Linked DNA regions of Homo sapiens: region 1 is linked to region 2. Evidence: fine-mapped expression QTL. A gene starts in region 2. The other region holds a variant in brackets. All regions are shown on one strand. Distances are from middle to middle. Region 1 overlaps LOC105372666 (a long non-coding RNA gene). Region 2 holds the start of TSHZ2 (teashirt zinc finger homeobox 2).

What was found. PIP is the estimated chance that this variant, and not a neighbour inherited with it, causes the effect.
Region 1: its variant is fine-mapped to the expression of TSHZ2 in whole blood (TOPMed, PIP above 0.99).

Annotation. Positions count from the first base shown.
Region 1 is chr20:52,449,719-52,455,102 of GRCh38, reverse strand. The region is part of intron 4 of LOC105372666 (a long non-coding RNA gene); the gene reads right to left. Among named protein-coding and RNA genes, the nearest start is that of LINC01524, 170 kb to the left of the region's middle. The variant G/T (reference allele first, on the strand shown) is at 3,031.
Region 2 is chr20:52,969,115-52,974,498 of GRCh38, reverse strand. TSHZ2 (teashirt zinc finger homeobox 2) reads right to left here and starts at 2,141. Exons shown (of 3, transcript NM_173485.6): 1 at 1,166-2,141. The coding sequence starts at 1,205.

The DNA of each region.
Region 1 (5,384 bases), 520 kb after region 2:
ATGTGGTGCATTGAGGTGCCAAGTCTGGTTCACGTGCCCACCTGGGAGCTGGAGGTGGGAAGAGCTCTGTATCAAACACCTATTCTGAGAGAGTATAGAGTAATTGAGTTTCTAGCAGAACACATGGCCACAAAAAATCCAGATTTCCCAGTCTTGCTTGCAGTTGGGTGGGACTGCATGACTAAAAGATGTGTGAATAAAAGTGATCATGTACAACTTGTATATTTTGCCCTTAAAAGGAAGAGAGTTCTGACCTCTTTCTCCCTTCCCGCTGGCTGGAATGCAAACCACAATGGCAGCAATCCCGGGTCATGAAGGCAAAGGCAACATCATAGGGATAGAAAGAAATGAGATAGCAGCATCCAGGATTCCTAACAGAGTTTCAGAGCAGAGCTGCCAAATCAGTTGGACCTTTATTTCTGTGAGACTAAAATAAAATTATATTGTTTTTAAGTCACCGTTTTGGGGGTTTGTGCACAGCATACCATAATCCTAGCTTATACAGAGTTTGAGCTTTATTATCACAAGGGAGATGGGAAAAAAGAGCCAATGATGATGATTATCATCACCACACAATGGAATTGGGGTTTTTTGTTGTTGTTTGTTTGTTTTAGTTTTTTTGTTTGTTTGTTTTTTGAGGCAGAATCTCGCTCTGTCCCCAGGCTGGAGTGCAGTGGTGCGATCTCAGCTCACTGCAACCTCCGACTCCCAGGTTCAAGCAATTCTCCTGCCTCAGCCTCCCGAGTAGCTGGGATTACAGGCATGCACCACCACACCCAGCTAATTTTTATATTTTTAGAAGAGACAGGGTTTCACCATGTTGGCCAGGCTGGTCTTGAACTCCTGACCTCAAATGATTCATCCACCTCAGCCTCCCAAAGTGTTGGGATTACAGGTGTGAGCCACCGCACTTAGCCACAATGGAATTATTCCTATGAGACTTTAACACTCACTGGTGTGGGTTTTCTGTTGTTTTTTTTTTTAGAAACTTCACAGTTCTGCTAGAACTCTGTTCTACCTAAGATCTATTGCACTGATTTGTTCAAACAAAGCTTTGAGCCTTTACATTTACAAATGTAACCCAACCTTGCTTAATCTTGGCATTGTGTCTTCACTACTGAACTCCGTGGTGGCATTTGTTGAGCCCTTCTGAGATCTGAAAGATGTCACCAGATCATTGAGTTAAACGGAGCTGACGTAGCTGGAGCAGAACCCAAGATCCCGCAAGGATAGAGACGGGGCAAATTACAAATCTTATCATCATATCATCTCCCGAAAGATCCCATTTAAAGGCAAGAATCAAAGTTCTTGCTGCTCTGACAAGAAGGAAAAATGCACACAGACCACAAACAAATGTATCCTGTCTAGTGTGTAAGGAGACAAAGATGGTTCTCACACACAGAAGAGGAAAATAATATCTCTATTATCTTTAGTATGGATAAAACTGCCCTTTCTCTAACATTTTATCATCCCAGTTTGTTTCTTCACACAAGCAAAAGAAGAATCTATTTTTATAACATGATTTAATATTATAAACTTTTAATTATATATTATGTAAAATATCATTATAATAGGAACGATAACAACTAACCTTAATTAAGTGCCCAATATGTGCCTTAAATCTATTTTTCTCACTATAGTCTCAAATCACTTTATCAGGTGGGTATAATTGATAGTATGTTATGGATAAGGAGACTGACCCAGTGTATTAGTCCGTTTTCACACTGCTGTAAAGATATACCCAAGACTGAGTAATGTATAAAGGAAAGAGGTTTAATTGACTCACAGTTCCACAGGGCTGGGGAGGCCTCAGGGAACTTACAATCAAGGCAGAAAGAGAAGCAGGCGCATCTTACATGGCAGCAGGCAAGAGAGAGAGTGAGCAAGAGCAGGGAAAACTGCCTCATAAACCCATCAGATCTCATGAGAACTCACTCACTATCACAAGAACAGCATGGGGGAACCTCCCCGTGATCTAATCACCTCCCTCCCTCAACACGTGGGGATTACAGGTCCCCCCACTCCACACATGGGGATTACAATTGGAGATGAAATTTGGGTGGGGACACAGAGCCAAACCATATCACCCAGGAAGAAGATAAATAACTGGCCAAAGTCACTCAGCCAGGGAGTGGCAGGTCCAGAAATGAAAGGTAGGCAGTCAAATTCTAGAGCCTGCCTCCTAAAACATGATTCTATTTGACTGTTAACCACTTGTGGTGGACACCAAGATGGGCCACCTAGATCTACCTTCAAAGAACTTGTTGCCCAGCTACGGGAGCAGGGTCAGCAGACAGGCAGGTTGATCTCCTTCAGGGTCTGAACATGGAAAAAGACACTGCCCCAAGGTCATCTGAGCCTTGGGTTTTGTATAATAATACATTCAATAAATAATTTTTTTTTTTACTATATTCCAAGCACCTTCCTAGGAAAGAACACAGTAGACAGCGTCCCTGCCCTCAGGGTTCTCAAGGCATTTACTGGAGTAAGGTCAGTGGTTCTTAATCTTGATTGTTCATGAGACTCACCCAAGAATTGATTTGTGTTTTTATTCATTTATTTTAACCATACTCAGGTCCCACTGCAATTCAGTTGAATAAGAAAGAAGGAGAAGCTGTGAACTGTAGGTCTAAGGACTTCTCAAACTTTTTCACGTACATGGAGTCACCCTGGGCTCTTATCAAAATGTAGATTCTGATTCAGTAGGTCTGGGGAGCTGCTGCTGCTGCTGGTTCCAAACTACGCTGGATTAAAAAGAGGCAAAGAAGCAGAAGATAAGCACAGGTAAGGAGGTGTAGAGCCGCCCACACATGACATTCAATTATTTGATGTTTTTGCATAACAGACACAGACTCTATACAGGAGGAGGTTATCAGATTTAGAGAAACTTCTCAACTGGGCAAGGTGGCTCAAGCCTATAACTCCAACGCTCCAAGAGGCTTGACTGGTGGATTGCTTGAGTCCAGGAGTTTGAGACCAGCCTGGGAAACATAGCCAGACCCCATTGCTACAAAAAATAAAAACTTAGCT[G/T]GGTGTGGTGGTGCACACCTGTAGTCCTAGCTACTTGAGAGGCTAAGGCAAGAGGATCACTTGAGCCTGAGAGGTTGAGACTGCAATGAGTAGTGATCACGCCAATGCAAACCAGCCAGGGTTAGCAAGGCCTTGTCTCAAAAAAGAAAAAAAGAAAAGAAACTACTCAATACTCTATCACTGTTGTTTCTTAAAGGATAAAAACAGGCATACACACACACAAAAGAACAATATAGAACACAAAGTCATTTCTCCTTATACATTTAAATGTTTAAATAAAGCTTTGTATTACTTTTTGCATTTAGATGTTAATAATAAAGACTGTGTGAGCACGCGTGTGTGGCAATTCTGATGTATCAAGACTTTTCTTCTAGTCTAAACACAGTCATCTTCACAAGTAACTTTGACAATACACTTTCATTTTGCCAGGGTTGCCTGGGATGAAGTTTGCTCAGCCATTAAAAGGTGGGAAAGTCTCCTGCTGCTGTGTATATGAGAGAAAGCCACTGTTAACGTCATGTGTCAGCTACCCATCAATTGAGGCAGAGGAAGCAATTGGTTCATCAATGGGTTGGTAAGAAGCCCTCCAAACCTTAATTATCTGAGTGCCCCTCAGTTTCACTGGGCTTGTCACTGACTCCTTACAAGCTCAGAGGCAGACGAAAAGACAAACAGCACATCACCAACTGGTTAATTAGCAGTGAACACAAAGCAACCCAAATTACAAGCTCGAGAAAAGATGCCACAGATTTCCTTTTCATACACTGGATTCAAACATCACGGGCAAGGGGAAATGGCGAGTTTTTCATGTTCCAAAAGTATCTCAACTGCCCCCTGGGCTCTGCTTCAGAAATCAGGAAGCCAAATAATTCTTTTCTTCCCCAAAGAATTACAGAGGACCTACTGCATCCTGATCCCAAGGCTACGAAGGGGAATACAATGTGGCTGACTGAGTCATTCTTTCATGTATTCCTTCAACAAAGATATATTGTGGTCTCCTAATTCCTACTACATCCAAGTGCTAAGCTAGACACCAGGCACATGGTTATAAAAAATAAAGTCATGTGGCCAGGCACAGTGGTTCATGCCTGCAATCCCAGCACTTTGGGAGGCCGAGGCGGGTGGATCATCTGAGGTCAGAAGTTCGAGACCAGCCTGGCCAACATGTTGAAACCTCGTCTGTACTAAAAATACAAAAATTAGCTGGGCATGGTGGTGCATGCCTGTAATCCCAGCTATTCGGGTGGCTAAGGCAAAAGAATCGCTTAACTCTGGGAGGCAGAGGTTGCAGTGAGCCAAGATTGTGCCATTGCACTCTGGCCTGGGCGACAGCATGAGATTCTATTTCAAAAATAAATAAATAAATATTAAAAAAATAAAAATAAAGGCAGGTTTTTGACACATGCTACAGCATGGATGAATCTTGAGGAGATTATGCTAAGTGAAATAAGCCAGACACTGAAAGACAAATAGTGTATGATTCCACCTATACAAGACATCTAGCATAGTCAAATTTGGAGAGACAGAGAATTGAATGATGGTTGTCAGCCAGTGGGGGGGGAGGGGAAGGCAAAATTACTGTTTAGTGATTATGGAGTTTTCATTTGGGAAGATGAAAAGTCTGAAGATATAGTGATGATAACAGCATAAAAACGTGAATATACTTAATGCCACTGAAGCATACACTCAAAAAGTATTAAAGTGGTACATTTTATGTTCTGGATATTTTGCCGCACTTTAAAACAATTTTTTTAAAGACAGAAAACAAAGGCATGATTCCTGTCCTCAGAGAAATTACATTCTAGTGGGAAGGTAGTCATGAAATAAACTGAGAAATCAGCACATAACTAACACTGCATGGTACAATTGCTATAAAGAAAGGAAGGTCCCTCTCATTAGAATCAATGTTGCTAATCTATCTAAATACAAAAATAACCACCATATTATTTGCTTTATTTCATTTACAAATGGGTCCCTTTACATATTGACCTCTTGATTATGTTGAAGGTGTATAGATAAATCGTTCACTACCTAACTAAGAGGCCTACAGGCAGAGAATTTTCAAGATAAAGTGTTATGGGGTAGTGCCAATTGAAGATCAATCAGAAATTACAGTAAGCATCTTGGTAATTACAACAAAAGCTAATGGAAAAAATGATTTAACTCATAAAAGTTTACTATATACCCAGTCTTATACACACATATACCTATAAAATGATGTAATGAAAAAAATCCATATGAGGCTGCATGGTTTGCATATTTAATAGACACAGTTATTGCTTGTGAGCATAATATTCCATATTTACTTGTCTAATATTCCCTCTCCTGCTGATTATTTGAGCATTGCTGTTTTT
Region 2 (5,384 bases):
TAAGCTTTTTGCGAAAGCCCTGATTCAACTAAAGGACACAAAGAAATAAAAACGCCCACATTAAAAGCCAAACAAGATAATAATTGTGCATGTCTGGCTCTGAATATAGAGGGCAAGGTTTGCGTCACTGGCACTCTGAGTTACCATGGTGAGTGATTTATTGATATATATCAAGAATGAATAGATCAAAGGCAGCGAGATGACAGGTGATCAATCAAATGTCAAATCAAAACTAGCAATCAAGTGGAAAGCTGATTTTTCAGTGGGTGGGTCTGGCAGAAGAAAAATGAACTTTCATATTACATTTCCGAGAAACAAAACCCCAGCATACTATTAAAAAAGCAATTAAGCAACCCAAAAGAAAAAAAAACTTTAGAAGGTCTATTGTACTGATCCATTAACCTGTTCTTATCTTTTTTAGGGGGCAGTAAGGATTCAGATGGGATAGTTTTTACAGTACGAATCATTTCACAAAGTTTGCAACTCTCTAGGCAAAGAAAATCCAGAGCTGTTTAAATTTCTATGGGGAATTTCCCCCCTACAACCCTTTTTGGTTTTTTTAAAGAATAGGGAAATTGTTAATTACATTTCCAAATATGGATCCTTTTAGAAAATATATGCAAAGAGTCATCCATTTCCTGGGGGCATTTTGTCCACCTTGGTGATCAACGCTAAACTCCTATTGCTGGCCCCAAAGCCTGCCTGCAGCCCGAGTGTTAGGTATGCCTCACACTTCAGCGCCCCAAGCCCCAGTGAGAGGAGACGCTATCCCTGGAGGCCAAAAGCCACTGGCACTGACCACGCAGAGGGATGCAGGGGTGGAGGGGCTGTCTCCCTACTCCGCACCCCAAATCCTCAATCCGACTTTGGCCCGAGAGGCAAGAAACAGACTGGAAGAAAGTTAGGGGTGGGGTAGAGGGTGGAGGAAAGAAAGTTTAAGGAGGAAAGGCTTGGTGGGATAGCTCACCCCAACCCAACCGGAGCTTGGAAGGGGAGGATTTGGGAGACCAGAGAAGGCGAGAGAGGACGGGGTTATTAGAAGGGCACCCGGCGCAAACTCCCCCGAAAGCTTAAGTGGGTGGTGCCCCCGGGCACCCAGGGGCAAGGAGGGCGGGCGAGGAGCTCGGCGCACAGGGCAGCCCCGAAGCGGAGCCGTTTCTCTTACCTGCCGCCCGCTTGGGTGCCTGCTGTTTTCTCCTCGGCATCCTCTACTTCGCTCCAGTCCCACTTCTGGCGCCCCAGCCCCGAGCCGCGCGCTGGGGCCCGCTGTCTCTCTGGCCTCTCTGGGTCTCCTCCGCCTCTTGCCCGGTGGCTCCTAGGACGTCACTCGGCCTCTGTCCCCCTGACGATCCCCCCTGCAACTCCTCCACCACGGGCCAGAGACCCCCCTCTCTGGGTGGCAGACACGGGTGGCTTGTGCCGGCTGCTTTGAAGTAGAGGTTGGTTCTGCCTTGTTTGTTTGTTTGTTTATTTTGAATTTTTTTTCCTCTCTCTTTTTTGTTTTTGCTTTTGGAATTTTTTTGGTTTTGTTTTTGCGGTTTTTTTTTTTTTTGGTGACTGTTGAGACACTTGATTTCTTTATTAAACATCCAAGCCCGGGTTCGGATGGAAGGGACGAGGGGCGCACACGCGCCACAGGCACACTCGCGCGTAAAGATAAGGAAAAAAAAAAGGCAATCCTGGGAAGGTAGTGGGTTTCTTCTTTTTCTTCTTCTTCCTTCTCCTCTTTCCCTCCTCCTCCTCCTCCTCCACCTCCTCCTCCACCTCCTCCTTCTTTTCTTCCTCCTCCTCCTCCTCCTCCTCGCCGATCTCTATGGCGGATTCGTGCCGGGGGGAGAGCGATCACTCACTGTAGGTTTGTGGCTGCTGTCAGATCCCCGTCTGTGAGTGATATGCGAGAGGACAGGAGCGGGTTTTGGAAAGACAGAAAATCTGGAATTCACTCACTCACACACACACACAGACACACACACAGACACTCACACACGCACTCACACGCGCACGCACCCCCGCTTCCTCGCACACACACACTCACACCCCCCACATATGCACACACACACAAACACACACACACACCCTCGCACACACACACAAGACAGGGCGAGGCGATGCCAGCAAACATCGATCCCGCTGAACAAACTGAACATTAACAAACTCCTCCTCCTCCTCCTCTCCCCGCGACCTGATGACAGGGAGAAATTTACTCCCCAGCCGCAGAGCGCCAGGCAGCGGGAGCCTATTAAAGGGACAGCGTCCCGCAGGGGAGAGGGGCTGGGGGCGGGGGCCCCGGCGCGCCGGCCCAGGCCCCTCTGTGCGCCCTCTCCGCCGGGGCGAGGGCGTGCCCACCGGGCGCGGGGACACCCCTCCGGGAGGCGGAAGGGGCGGGGGCGGGAGGAAAGGAGGTGAGGAGGGAAGGGGTGCGGGAGAAAAGGAGGCAGTGTGATGATGGCTGAACTCTGAAGCTGGGAGGCTGTGGAGGGAGATTCAGGGGGGCCAGGTTGGCTGACCAGCAGGGACCATGCACAATCTTAGGAGAGGGAGAACTTAGGTTTGCTCGGGGCTGGGAAGGGGGAGGGGACCTTATCCAGTGAGGATCTCCATCCTGTAAGTCTTAACCTGCCCCCACCAAAATGTGCTCCCCACGACCCCTTCAATTTAGTGCCCCTGTCCCTCCCACTTTCTCGCTAATCAATGGGTGGTCACAAAAACAAAAATCTCCCTTCTGTCTACTTTAAGGTCTAATCATATACTCCTCTTTTTGTTTCCTTTGAAGAATGTTTATTGAGCATCTACTATGTGCCTATTCTGGAGACACAGAGGCCACAGAGAAAGGGAAGGTGGTGGCCATGTTGGTATTTATATTCTAATGGGGGAGTGCAGACAAGTGCCCCCCAGCTATCCAATCTTTGCTTAAATGTCCCCTTTTCCCAAAGGTCTACCTCACCTAAAATACACACACACACACACACACACACTCCCTGCCCCATTTCTCCATTTTGTTATTCCCCAGTGAGCTGATCAGTGAGTGTCACACAGGTTATAGACAGTTTTCTATTCTGTTGATTGTACAAGTTCCCCTCTTGAATGTAAGCTCCAATGGAAGGAAGGATTTTTGCCTCTTTGTTCTCTTATATCCCCAAGTGCTGGCAAAGCACAAGACATATAATAAGTGCCCAGTAAAATATTTGTTGAATGAATGAAAAGTAAGCAAGCAAATAAACAGGATACTTTGAGTGATTCGCTCCATGAAGACGTTAAGCTGAGTGCTGTAATAGTGTCTAAAAGGGGGTGGGTGGCTCTAGATTCAATGTAGGATATGGCATTTGAGCACAGAGAGATTGAAACAAACATGTGATTATTGAGTTCTGCTATCGGCCAGGCACCTTTTGAGGTGTTGGGGGCAAGTCTGTGAACAAGGTGAACCTAGACCATGCCCTCAAGGAGTGCTCCTTCCAGTGAGAGGGCAAAGCAACTGAGGGCATTTGATGCAGGCTGGGACTAGAGGTGTTTTTTTTTGCTTTATTATTTTTTTTATTTCAATAGCTTTAGGGGTAAAAGTGGTTTTCGGTTACATGGATGAATTGCATAGTGGTGAAGTCTGGGATTTCAGTGCACCCGTCACCCGAGTAGTGTACATCGTACCCAATAGGTAGTTTTTCAGTCCTCACCCCCTTCCCATACTCCTCGCTTCTGAGTTGCCAATGTCCATGATATCTTTCCATATGCCTTTGCATACCCATGCATTAGCTCCCACTTATAACCAAGAACGTGTGGTATTTGGTTTTTGATCCTGAGTTACTTCACCTAGAATAACGGCCTCCAGCTCTATCCAAGTTGCTGTGAAAGACATTATTTTGTTCTTTACTATGGCTGAGTAGTATTCCACGGTGTATATATATGTGTGTATATACACACAAACACACATATATATACACAAATACACATATATAGATATATATACCACATTTTCTTTATACAATAATCAGTTGATGGGCACTTATGTTGATTTCATATCTTTGCAATTGTGCTGCAATGAATATACGCCTGCAGGTGTCTTTTTGACATAATGACTTTTTTTCCTTTGGGTAGATACCCAGTAGTGGGGTTGCTGGATCAAATGGTAGATCTACTTTTAATTCCTTGAGAAATCTCCATACTGTTCTCCATAGAGATTGTACTAATTTACATTCACACCAGCAGTGGGTATAAAAGTTCCCTTTTCCCCACATCCACACCAATATCTGTTGTTTTTTGACTTTTTAATAATGGCCATTCTGGCTAGGGTAAGGTGCTATCTCACTGCAGTTTTAATTTGCATTTACCCTGTGATTATTGATGTTCAGCATTTTTTCATTATGTTTGTTGGCCATTTGTCTGTCTCCTTTTGAGAAATGTCTATTCACGTCATTTGTCCACTTTTTAATGAGATTATTTTTTTTTTTTTCTTGCTGATTTGTTTGAGTTCCTTGTAGATTCTGGATATTAGTCCTTTGTCAGATGCATAGTTTGCAAATATTTTCACCCATTCTGTAGGTTGTCTGTTTGCTCTGATGATTGTTTCTTTTACTGGGTAGAATTTTTTTAGTTTAATTAGGCTCCATTTATTTATTTATTTTTGTTGCATTTGCTTTTGAGGGCTTAGTCAGAAATTCTTTGCCTAAGCCAATGTCCAGAAGAGTTTTTCTTAGGTTTTCTTCTAGAATATTTATGGTGTCAGGTCTTATGTTTAAAGTCTTTAATCCATCTTGAGTTAATTTTTATATATGGTCAGAGACAGGGATAGTTTCATTCTTCTACATGTGGCTATCCAATTTTCCCAGCACCATTTATTGAATAGGGCAGGGGTCCCGAACCCCTGAACCATGGACTAGCACCTGTCCATGGCCTGTAAGGAACTAGGTGGCACAGAAGGAGGTGAGCAGGTAGGGGTAAGCAAGCATTACCATTTGAGCTCTGTCACTTCAGCAGGGGCATTAGACTCTCATGGGAGCTCTAACTCTATTGTAAACTGTGAATGCAAGGGATCTAGGTTGCACACTCCTTATGAGAATCTAATGCCTAATGATCTGAGGTCAAACAGTTTTATCCCAAAACCATCCACCCTGCCCTGGTCCATGGAAAAATTGTCTTCCATGAAACCAGTCCCTGGTGAAAAAAAGGCTGGAGAACACTGGAATAGACCTTTTCCCAACTTATGTTTTTATATGCTTTGCCAAAGATCAGTTGGTTATAAGTATGTGGTGAAGGTGTTCTTAGGAGGAGTGATTACCCTGAACTTGGCGAAAGGAAGGATGGTTACCAGGCGGGGCTTCAAGGGAAGAGGTAAGTCAAAGCTGAGTCTTACATATAACAAACGGGTAGGCAAAAAGGGAACTCTGATACTG